3 linked regions of the Homo sapiens genome follow. The protein of the gene in region 2 purifies or fractionates together with the protein of the main gene of each other region. This does not show direct contact. Each region holds a gene or a part of one and is shown on either strand. Other genes may lie near its edges.

What was found.
Region 1: the proteins of KANSL3 (region 2) and NDRG1 purify together in Homo sapiens (co-immunoprecipitation; one large-scale study listed by IntAct). This does not show direct contact.
Region 3: the proteins of KANSL3 (region 2) and UBE2R2 purify together in Homo sapiens (co-immunoprecipitation; one large-scale study listed by IntAct). This does not show direct contact.

The regions. Positions count from the first base shown.
Region 1 is NC_000008.11:133,287,247-133,290,897, forward strand, and holds part of NDRG1 (protein NDRG1), read right to left. Parts: intron 1-3,651. UniProt on the Homo sapiens protein: Stress-responsive protein involved in hormone responses, cell growth, and differentiation. Acts as a tumor suppressor in many cell types. Necessary but not sufficient for p53/TP53-mediated caspase activation and apoptosis.
Region 2 is NC_000002.12:96,631,794-96,635,444, forward strand, and holds part of KANSL3 (KAT8 regulatory NSL complex subunit 3), read right to left. Parts: intron 1-3,651. UniProt on the Homo sapiens protein: Non-catalytic component of the NSL histone acetyltransferase complex, a multiprotein complex that mediates histone H4 acetylation at 'Lys-5'- and 'Lys-8' (H4K5ac and H4K8ac) at transcription start sites and promotes transcription initiation.
Region 3 is NC_000009.12:33,900,584-33,904,234, reverse strand, and holds part of UBE2R2 (ubiquitin-conjugating enzyme E2 R2), read right to left. Parts: intron 1-3,651. UniProt on the Homo sapiens protein: E2 ubiquitin-conjugating enzyme that accepts ubiquitin from an E1 ubiquitin-activating protein, and catalyzes its covalent attachment to other proteins by an E3 ubiquitin-protein ligase complex.

The sequences.
Region 1 (3,651 bases), on a different chromosome or scaffold from region 2:
TCCACCCCAGGACTTGGCTCCCTACAATCTGCCCACTCCCAGCCCCCACGCCACCAGGCTGGCCCTCAAAGAACATCTGAGTTCACGGAAGCAGGATGGAAAACTCAGGATTTATTCAGAGGTTTCTACCCACTAGGTTCTATGTGCCCAACACAGAGCTCAGAACAAAAATAACACCAGCTATGGTGATGAGACTGGCTATGGGACTCATCTGGGGATCATGAGCAAACAGACCCAGTTCCTGCCCCCACGGAGCTCACAGTCCCGAGGGGACAGGCACTCCCTTGGGCTCACTCATCAGGCTGCATCTGGGCTGTGTCCACTGTCTGTCTGTCCCCCTGGAGGGCAGAGCAGATGCTGTCTGGACAGCATCCAGGACAGCGTCTGTGCCTCCTGGACAGAGATCCTCAGCTCAGCACTGCTGACATTTGGGCCCCACAAGCAGCCTCTGCCTTAGGGGCTGCCCTGAGCACGGGAGGAGGCTCAGCAGCATCCCTGGCCTCTGCCCACCACATGCCCACAGCATACACCCCACGCTGCGACCAGCAAAAGAATCTGCAAACGTTGCCAAATGTCCCCTGGTGCGACATCCACCCTCCTCTGGAATAGCTGATTTTAGTAATTCCTAGTAGGTAACAGTATCCAGAAAATGTCAGTTGGATGCATTCTTATTTAATCTAGTGCATGCGTGCACACACGCACACACACACACACACACTCTCAAATGCACTCACACATTCCCTCACACTGACACACTTGCAAACTTTCATTCTCACACTCAGACATTCTCACATTCACACACTTATACTCACACATACATACATTCTCACAAACACACTCATTCTCACATACTCACACTTTCTTACACACTGATACATTCTCACTTTCATGGACTCTCACATCCACAGTCATTTATACTCACACGCACTCACACGCACACGTGCACTCCCCACCACCTTCATTCACGGAGGAGGGGGCTGGGCCCAAGCGGCTGCCAGCTGTCCTGAGCTCACCCTGCTGGCTGCAGCACAGGGGCTGGAGTGGAGTCAGATCCAATGTTCACACTCTTCCTTCACTCCACTCTCCCCAAAACACTTTTTCTGGGATTCAAAGTCACCACCTGAGAATCATGGAAGGACCCAGTTCTGGCAGAAGCTGCTGTCTTCTGGTGTCTGTGATCTCCTTCTGCCAGCAGGAAATGGCAGGTGATACGTGACCTGGTTTGGCGGCTCGAGCTGGTGCTTCCACTCCTGCTCCCTCCTCCCGGGCACCTGAGGCCCTCACGGCTTAGCAAGTGTGGCAGGTGGAGCCTGTCCCTGGGCTTGAGGTCCTTGCTGGACTCCAGCTCCTGCCCTCCCTCTGCCTCATGCAAAGTCCTAATCACAGAATGTTGGGACCCACTAGAAAGCATCAAAGAGGTCCTCCAGCAGGTGGGGTGGCAAGGCAGGGCCACACACAGCATGGCGGGGGAACCAGGGCTGACTCCTAGCCCACCAGCCCCACCTTTGGAGTGGCTTGGGACTGACAAACCGTGTCTCCATCTCCAAGGCCATCTTTGCTCCCCAAGAAGCACAGAAGAAACCCCTCCAGCAGGTCTCCTTCAGCTAAAACCCAGCTTAGCACCAAAAACAGGGCTCCAGGTCACAGCACCAGCTGCCAGCCTGTATCTTCACTTCTTTTCCCATCCACCTGCCTGGGAGGAATTCCGAGAAGACCAATGCCAGAGAAGCGAAAGGTAGCCAGGAGCTGGGGGAAGGCTTGCAGGCCATGGTGTCACCATTTATTAGCTCTGTGATCCTGCATAATTTATCGAATCTCTTTTTAAAAATGTATTATTCATCTTGTTTTTTAGAGAGACAGGGTCTTGCTATGTTGCCCAGACTGGTCTCAAACTCCTGGGTTCAAGTGATCCTCCTACTCCGGCCTCCTGAGTAGCTGAGATTACAGGCATATGCCACCATGCCTGGCTATCTAACCTCTTTGCCTCAGTTTGCTTGTCTGTCAATGGGCATGCTAACTCCTGCTCCCAATGATCAGCAGTGGGGCTTAAATTCAAGAATGGCATGGAGAATTAAGCAAACAGTTGCTTAATTCATCAACATACTTTCCTTTCAGGGTTGCCTTGGAGATGCCAGGACATCTGTGAGGATGTGGCCTGGGTTTCAGTCCTAGAGTCCCAGCGAGGAGAGGGACACATGGAAAATGCTCAGCAAATGCCACCAAGGTTTCTGATTATCAGGCCCAGTGCGTCACCACTGGGGCCCTTCTCTCCACCAGCACTGTCTGTCAATGAGTAATGAGGGCCCAAGAGGGGCTACACAAATACCCTTCCAGTCCAGCAGACCCAGGAGAGTCAGAGGAGAGCTGGATCACAGGTGCCAGGCAAAGCCAAGGCCAGGATCTGCCCGAGGAAGAAAAGAACGTGACCCGTGACCCTGGGACCTGGGAGGGCAGTGGGCAGAGGCATCTTCAGTAATCCGACACCACTTGAGAACTGTTCAACAGCCCCTGGGGGACTGAGGGGGACACACAGAGCCTGTGATTCCCAAAAACCTCAGTGGGGCAGCAGGAACGCTGGCCTAGGAATCAGGGCATGGGGACCCTGCCACTTTCCTATTCCATGACTCTGAGCAAGTCACTTCCTCTCTGGGCCTTGGTTTCTCCATCTGTAAAGTAGGCACAGTGTACGTCTATGGAGATCACGCTGTCCACAACAAACTTACAGGCAAATGGAAACCCAGGCAGGAAGGTGCTTCACCAAGACAAAAGGGCCACAGGGTCTTACCAAGGCCCTGCCAGGCTCAGCTCTGGCCAGATTAGCCCCGCACCTTGGACCAAGGCCCCCACTTCTGCCAGCCTCAGACTCCTGTCTGTTAAGACTAGTGCCTTGCTCCAGCTCTGCCACCCACCTGCACACCCTCTTGAGCAAACTCTCCTGGGCCCCGCCACAACTCCCACAGGGTGAGGCTGAAGGGGTATCCAGCAGAGAAACATCCATGATCTGTTCTAGAAGTTCCAGGTTCCGCCCACCAGGAAGAGCAGCCACAGGAAGGCAACAATGTAACCCTACACAGACACACCACAAAAACAGCACCAGGAACAGTATCTGTGGCACTAACTGGACTCTAAACCCGGTACTTCCTTTAAGCCTCACAGAAACCCTAGGAGGGAGGTGCCAGCATGTCACCATTTAACAGACGGGGAAACTGAGGCATCAAGAGGTTAAGATGTGTGCCCCAAGTCAGCAAGCATCAAGCTGGCTGCTTTAAGGTTAAAGCAACCTTAAAGGGAATGTTGACAATGATCTCACATTGCCCTAAATATATCCACAGTCCTCACCACCACCCGTGGCCCAGATACAACGTTGTAAGGTGGGCTGCACGTGACCATGAGGCTTTCAGCGTGTGGAGGTCAGCTGGGACAGTCACATGCCTCTCCTCCACCCTGCAGTCACCACTGAGCCATCATGAGCAGGCTTGAGCTTTTGGCAAAACCAGCATCTTGAACTTTTCTCCCTTCACAACACCCAGAAGGTTCTCTGTTTTCAGCTCCCCCATAGTACCTTCCTAAGACGGCCAACTCAATGCTTTGGAAAAGCATTCACTCAGCACACTGTTTCACTTGCTCCTCAAGGAGGTTGCCCCGGGAGAG
Region 2 (3,651 bases):
ACCACCACTTTGGGAAGCCGAGGCAGGTGGATTGCTTGAACTCAGGAGTTCAAGACCAGCCTGGGCAACATGAGGAAACCCTGTCTCTACCAAAAATACAAAAATTAGCTGGGCATGTGGCACACACCTGTGATCCCAGCTACTAAGGAGGCTAAGGTGGGAGGACTGCTGGAACCCGGGAAGTCAAGGCTGCAGTGAGCCATGATTGCATCACTGCACTCCAGCCTGGGTGACAGAGCAAGACCTGGTCTCAAAAATAAATAAATAAATGACAAATACAGCCAGACACAGTGATTCACACCTGTAATCCCAGCACTTGGGAGGCTGAAGCAGGAGGATCACTTAAGCCCAGGAGTGAGCTGGTCTCAAAAAATAAATAAATAAATGACAAATATAGCCAGGCACAGTGATTCATACTTGTAATCCCAGTACTTTGGAAGGCTGAAGGAGGATTGTTTAAGCCCAGAAGTTCAAGACCAGTTTGGCAATATGGCAAAACCCCGTCTCTAAAACAAACACAAAAATTAGCCAGGCATGGTGGTATGCGCCTGCAGTCCCAGAAACTGAAGTGGGAGGATGGCTTGCTTGAGCCCAGGAGGTTGAGGCTACAGTCAGCTCTGATCATGCCACTGCACTCCAGTCTGGGTGACACGGCAAGACCCAGTCTCAAAAAAAAGGACAATATATTCCATAAGCAAGTTGATTTGGCTCAAGCTAATATTTTTAAAAGATCACTTTCAATTTTTGTTTAGTAGGCTACAGCTCAGGAGTGGAATTTAGAAGACCAGCTAGGCAGCCACTGCAGTTGACTGAGATGGGCCAGAAATCATGAGAGCTCGTTTAGGGACAAGAACAGTACAAATGGAGAAAAGTGGCTAACAAGTTGATTGCCTAGATACTGTTCAATACAGTAGGTATAAGCCACACACGACTACTTAAATTGAGGCAGGTGGATCACGAGGTCAGATCGAGACTATCCTGGCTAACATGGAGAAACCCCGTCTCTACTAAAAATACAAAAATTTAGCCAGCCATGGTAGCAGGCATCTGTAGTCCCAGCTACTCAGGACACTGAGGAAGGAGAACGGTGTGAACCCAGGAGGCGGAGCTTGCAGTGAGCCGAGATTGCGCCACTGCACTCCAGACTGGGAGACAGAGCGAGACTCCATCTCAAAAAAAAAAAAAAAAAAAAAATTACTGGGCACAAGGGCTCACAAGGGCTCAGGCTTGTAATCCCAGCACTTTGGGAGGCCAAGGTGGGCAGAACACTTGAGCCCACAAGTTCAACAGTGTGGGCAACATGGTGAAACCCCGTCTCTACTGAAAATACAGAAATTAGCTTGTGGTCCCAGCTACATGGGAGGCTGAGGTGGGAGATCAACTGAGCCTGGGAGGCGGACGTTGCAGTGAGCCAAAATTGCACCACTGTACTTCAGTCTGGGTGACAGAGACCTCGGCCCAAAAAAAAAAAATTTAAATAGAATTAAATATTCAGGCTGGGCGTAGTGGCTCGCGCCTGTAAACCCAACATTTTGGGAGGCCAAGGCGGGTGGATCACCTTAGGTCACGAGTTCGAGACCAGCTTGGCCAACATGGTAAAACCCCATCTCTACTTAAAAAAAACAAAAATTAGGGTGTGGTGGCACGTGCCTGTAGTCCCAGCTACTCAGGAGGCTGAGGCAGGAGAATGGCGTGAACCCGGGAGACGGAGGTTGCAGTGAGCCGAGATCACACCACTGCACCCCAGCCTGGGCAACAGAGCGAGACTCTGTCTCAAAAAAAAAAAAAAAGGCCGGACATGGTGGCTCATGCCGGTAATCCCAGCACTCTGGGAGGCAGAGGCATGCGGATTGCCTGAGCTCAGGAGTTTGCAACCAGCCTGGGCAACATGGTGAAACCTCGTCTCTACTAAACACAAAAAATTAGCTGGGTGTGGCAGCGTGCACCTATAGTCCCAGCTACTTGGGAGACTGCAGCAGGAGAATTGCTTGAATCCGGGAGGCGGAGGTTACCATGAGCCAAGATTGCACCACTGCACTCCAGCCTGGGTGACAGAGCAAGACTCCGTCTCAAAAAAATAAAAAAATAAAAAATTCAGTTCCGTAGTGACGTTAGCCACATTTCAAGCATTCAACAGATACACGTGGCGGCAGTTACCACACTGGACATCCCAGGTATAGAACATTCCTATTATTACAGAGAGTTCTGTTAAACAGTGCTGGTCTAGAGTTTTAAATTCATACAAACTTTCCCTTTCATTAGCAAGTCAACTGGTAGTTATTTAATATATACTGTAAAGTCTATGATTTCCTTTCTGTATGATTATCTAAGACAGATGACCTGGAATGCACATACCTTAGCTACTTAGCTCATTTTGTACAGAGCCTAGAACAGAAACAAATATAAATGAACATCTAAAGGTCTTTCATATTTTAAAATGAGATCTAGCTGGGCATAGTGGCTCACGCCTGTAATCCCAGCACTTTGGGAGGCCGAGGCAGGTGGATTGCTTAAAGTCATGAGTTCAAGACGAGCCTGACCAACATGGTGAAACTCCGTCTCTACTAAAAATATTAGCCAGGCATGGTGGCGGGTGCCTATAATCCCAGCTACTTGGGAGGCTGAGGCAGGAGAATTGCTTGAACCCAGGAGGCAGAGGTTGCAGTGAGCCAAGATTGCGCCATTGCGCTCCAGCCTGGGCAACAGAGACTCCGTCTCAAAAAAAAAAAAAAAGAAAGTAAGAAACAAATCCTAGTGCCCCAAGGGTCCTTCCCCACTTTATGATACATTGCACCAACTTTGTCACCCCAAATACTATGCCAAACAAACTGGTCTAGTGGCTACCTGCCAAACTTTATGTTAACTTTTTGACTTCAGTGACCTTACTGCATCCATTTCCAATGACTGAAATAATTACATCATTATGAAATGAAATGAAATCATGTGCAGCTAGATTTGGTGGTGGGCAAAAGAGCTGATTATCTTCTCCAGGCCAGACATTGAGCTAGTACTTGGATATGTGTAGCTAAAAGAGAACTCTTGATTTCACCATCACAAACCTATCCTCCTCCAGTCTTCCCTAACTCATGGCACCACCCAACTGCTCAAGCCAGAAATCTGTCATCCTAATTTTACCTTTCCCTTTAACCCTGGTTCTTGCTCTTCCTTCCAATTCACCATAGCAGATCCTATTAACCTATTCACTCTACCTATGAAATACATCTCAAAGTCATCTATATTTCTCCATTTGTACTGTTCCTGCCCTATACAAGATATCACGATTTCTGGCCCATCTCAGTCCATTGCAGTGGCAGCCTGCAGCTGGTCTTGTAAGTTCTACTCCTGCACTATAATATACTCAACAAAAAATCCAAAATGATCTTTTTAAAGTATAAATTGAATCTCTAGTTTAAGATCCTTCAGTGACTTCTTACCACTCTTAGAATCAAATTCCTTCACGAGGTAACCCTTGCCAACTTCTCCCTACCTCCCACTTATACCCCTACTGCTATTATATTCTGGCCACACTGGCCTAAAAGAGTTCTTACAGCATGCCAAATTCTCACTTTCAGGGTCTATATTTGGAGACAGAGATTATAAAAGGAAACAATTTTCTAAGTACCAAAAGAACCAAGTCCACAGAATCTCACT
Region 3 (3,651 bases), on a different chromosome or scaffold from region 2:
TATTTCAGTGCCATAAATGACCTGTTAGAAAATATAACAGTTTACTACTTTAAAACCTCCCTTGTCTCACAACCAAGTGAACACAGAAACAAAAGGGATAAGCGAAAGTATTCCACATCTGCTCATTAGGTAGTGCTTTCCTGACTTCCGCTCAGAGTTCTGAGCACCACCAGGTATTCCAGACAGGTGAGGTTCCAAAAAGTGTACAAAACATCCCACAGCCCCCGAAAACACCAATAAGATCAAAATGTTGAAGGACTACCCAATGATTACATAGAACTAAGTGATAAAAAGTCTAAGAAGGTAAACAATTTCCAACCCAAATACCTTGTAGAGCTGTGTGAAGATGTTAGGTGTAACTCCACATAACTAGTTGTAGTTGGGAAGCTTCTAAACAAAGCAGCATAAAAGCAGGGAAAACAATCTTGATTTGAGTATGGGGAATGTCCCTAAATTGTGGCTCAGGTGGCCTGGGGACTCAAGTGTGAGGAAACAAAATGATGCTAGTACCCAAAGTAACAAAGGCAGTTTCAGATGGGCAGATAAGTATAAAAGGAATCCTCTGCCTCCAAAAGACTGGATTACATGAGAAGTAGGCCTATTTTAAAAGAAAAAATGTTCATAATACTTTAAGCTGAGATAAGGCAAATGACATCATTTGCGTGTAAATGCAAGAGAAGTAAAGGATAAAAAGCCTGAATTCCCATGGGTGGTGGCAATACATTATCCAGCCAAGCAGCATAAAAATGCAATGAGGAAAATCTTGTTTGGGGCTTTGTATTTGAGGAAAGGGGAAGCTTATTTTCTCAAATAGGGAGAGGGTGTAAGCATTTGATTCAACGTTCAACCAGCAAAACCAAGAATCACCAGTATTATAGCTACCACTTCCTCTAATCTAGGGTTATTACTCGTCCTGAAAATCCATGCACCAGAATCATTATTAAAGTACAACTGGGGATTTTTTTGGATGCAATTTTTTCAACAAATCATCCAAAATATTTTTTAAAAACTTTTATACACATTGTCTAATTATAATGTCAAAATAATGTGCTACAATTACTTCTGAAGACGTAGCACCCTCAAACATACTCTTGAGTAATATAGAATACATAAAACTCAGACTTTTTTTTTTTTTGAGACAGCGTTTCACTCTTGTTGCCCAGGCTGGAGTGCAGTGGCACGATCCTGGCTCACCGCAACCTCCGCCTCCCAGGTTCAAGCAATTCTCCTGCCTCAGCCTCCCGAGTAGCTGGGATTACAGGCAGGTGCCACCATGCCCAGCTAATTTTGTATTTTTAGTAGAGACAGGGTTTCTTCATGTTGGTCAGGCTAGTCTTGAACTCCCGACCTCAGGTGATCTGCCCACCTTGGCCTCCCAAAGTGCTGGGATTACAGGCGTGAGCCACTGCGCCCGGCCTACAACTCAGAATTTTTAATACTAATTTAAAATTGAGTCTATCGAGATAATTCATGTATACATAATTTGCTACGTAGGACACTTTTCCCCTCAAAAAAAGAAAGCGTATTCTCAATTACAGAATATCTCAAAAACAGCTCAAAACAATTATTTTAGTTCTTTTCATGTATTTAGAACCCAAGATAAATTATGTACTACTTGAACTGGTTACGATACAGGCATCTAGCAATTATGTCTCCCTGTAGCAAAATGAAATAAATATGAGGAACTAAGAAATGTGTTTCTCTTCTAATAGATAGCAAATGACTGCTTCACATTAGACCCAAAAAATTCCTTGAAAATAATAGCTGCAACCCAAGCCAGCCAGGTAATATCCACCATTCTAGTAGGTTTACATGCATTATTCACTTAAATTCTATCAACAACCTACTGAGGTAGGTATTATTCTTGTATAGATAAGAGATTCAGAAGGCGGGTGTAGTGTGAGCACCTGTAATCCCAACACTTTGGGAGGCTGAGGCAGGGGCATCACTTGAGCCCATGGGTTTCAGACCAGCCTGGGCAACATGGTGAGACCCCATCTTTACAAAAAACTTAAAAATTAGTCCAGGTGCTTTGGGGCACACCTATAATCTGAGCATTCTGGGAGGCCAAGTGGATTGCTTGAGCCCAGTAGTTTGAGACTGGCCTGGGAAACAAAGCAAAACCCCATCTCTCTACAAAAAAAATACAAAATCTTGAGCAGACACCGTGATGCATGCCTGTGGTCCCAGCTACCCAAGAGACTAAAGTGGAAGGATTGCTCAAGCCCGGGAGGTTGAGGCTGTGCTGAGCCGTGACCGCGCCGCTTCATTCCAGCCTGGGCGACAGAGCAAGATCCTGTCTTAAAAAAAAAAAAAAAAAAAGAAATATGAGAAAAAAACATTCAGAGGGATGATGGTTGTCAAGGTGAGGTGTAAAAACACATTTATTTGAATTTAGAAAGAAAGTAACATTTTTTGTCTTAAAAAATATATTGGTAAGATATGCTGAAATCTTTAATATATCTATTTTCTCAACTCTTTCTAAATAAATTGGATGGAACAAGGTACCCAAAGGAATGAGTAACAAACATAATCAACAGTCATTTGACACATCTTGAAGAGCTTCTATTACAAGTCAGGAAGCTTCCAATTCTTCACTTTTGATAAACCTGGAGATTCTAATCAAGTTATTAGTTTTTGTATCAGTAAAAATGTTTAACAAATGATTGAATAAACAAATAAAGGGGAAGAATAGATCAATCCATGCAGAAGAATTCAAAATAATTTATATAGATACCCTGGCTTCAAGGAGGTATAGCCACCCTCTCCTTAGTTGTGGGCTATGCATATTCCTTCCAAGGAGTACAGAATGAAAAGTTCAGGAAAGAGCAACTTTACAGTGGAGAAAAGCTAAAAATATTATTTCAGGCAGGTGATGAAAGGTATCCCATCAACAGGGATAAGCCACACTGATAGTAAATACTTCAGATATGACATAATGAAAATGGCACATTACTTCTCTGGTCTTTCTCTCCCAAACCTATAACCCTAGACTAATCATGAGAAAACACATAAGAAAAATCTCAACTGGGGGACATTGCACAAAATACCTGATCAGTACCCCCCAAAATTGTCATCAAAAACAAGAAAATTTATAATCAAGAGTTGCTTAATAGCTAGGTATGGTGGCATACACCTATAGTCACAGCTACTTGGGAGGCTGAGGTGAAAGGCTCACTTGAGCCCAGGAGGTCGAGGCTGCAGTGACCTGTGATCACACCGCTGCACACCAGTCTGGGTGACGGGAAGACACTGTCTCAAAGACAAGAGACAGAGACACAGACAGAAACAGAGAGAGAGAGAGAGACAGAGACAGAGAGAGAGAGGAGTTGCCCATGAAGACATGACTATTAAATATAATGTGATGAGCAGGGCACAGTGGCTCATGCCTATAATCCCAGCGCTTTGGGAGGCCAAGTGGGGAGGACTGCTTGAGGCCAGGAGTTTGAGACCAGCTGGGCAACTTAGTGAGACCCCATCTCTACAAAAAATTTAAATACATATATGTATACACGTACATATATAGATATATATTTATATGTATGAAATATTTTGGAGCAAAACAACGACAGGTAAAAACAAAGGAAATGTGAAAGCGTATGGACTTCAGTTACTTATAATGAATTAACATTGTTTATTAACTGCAACCAA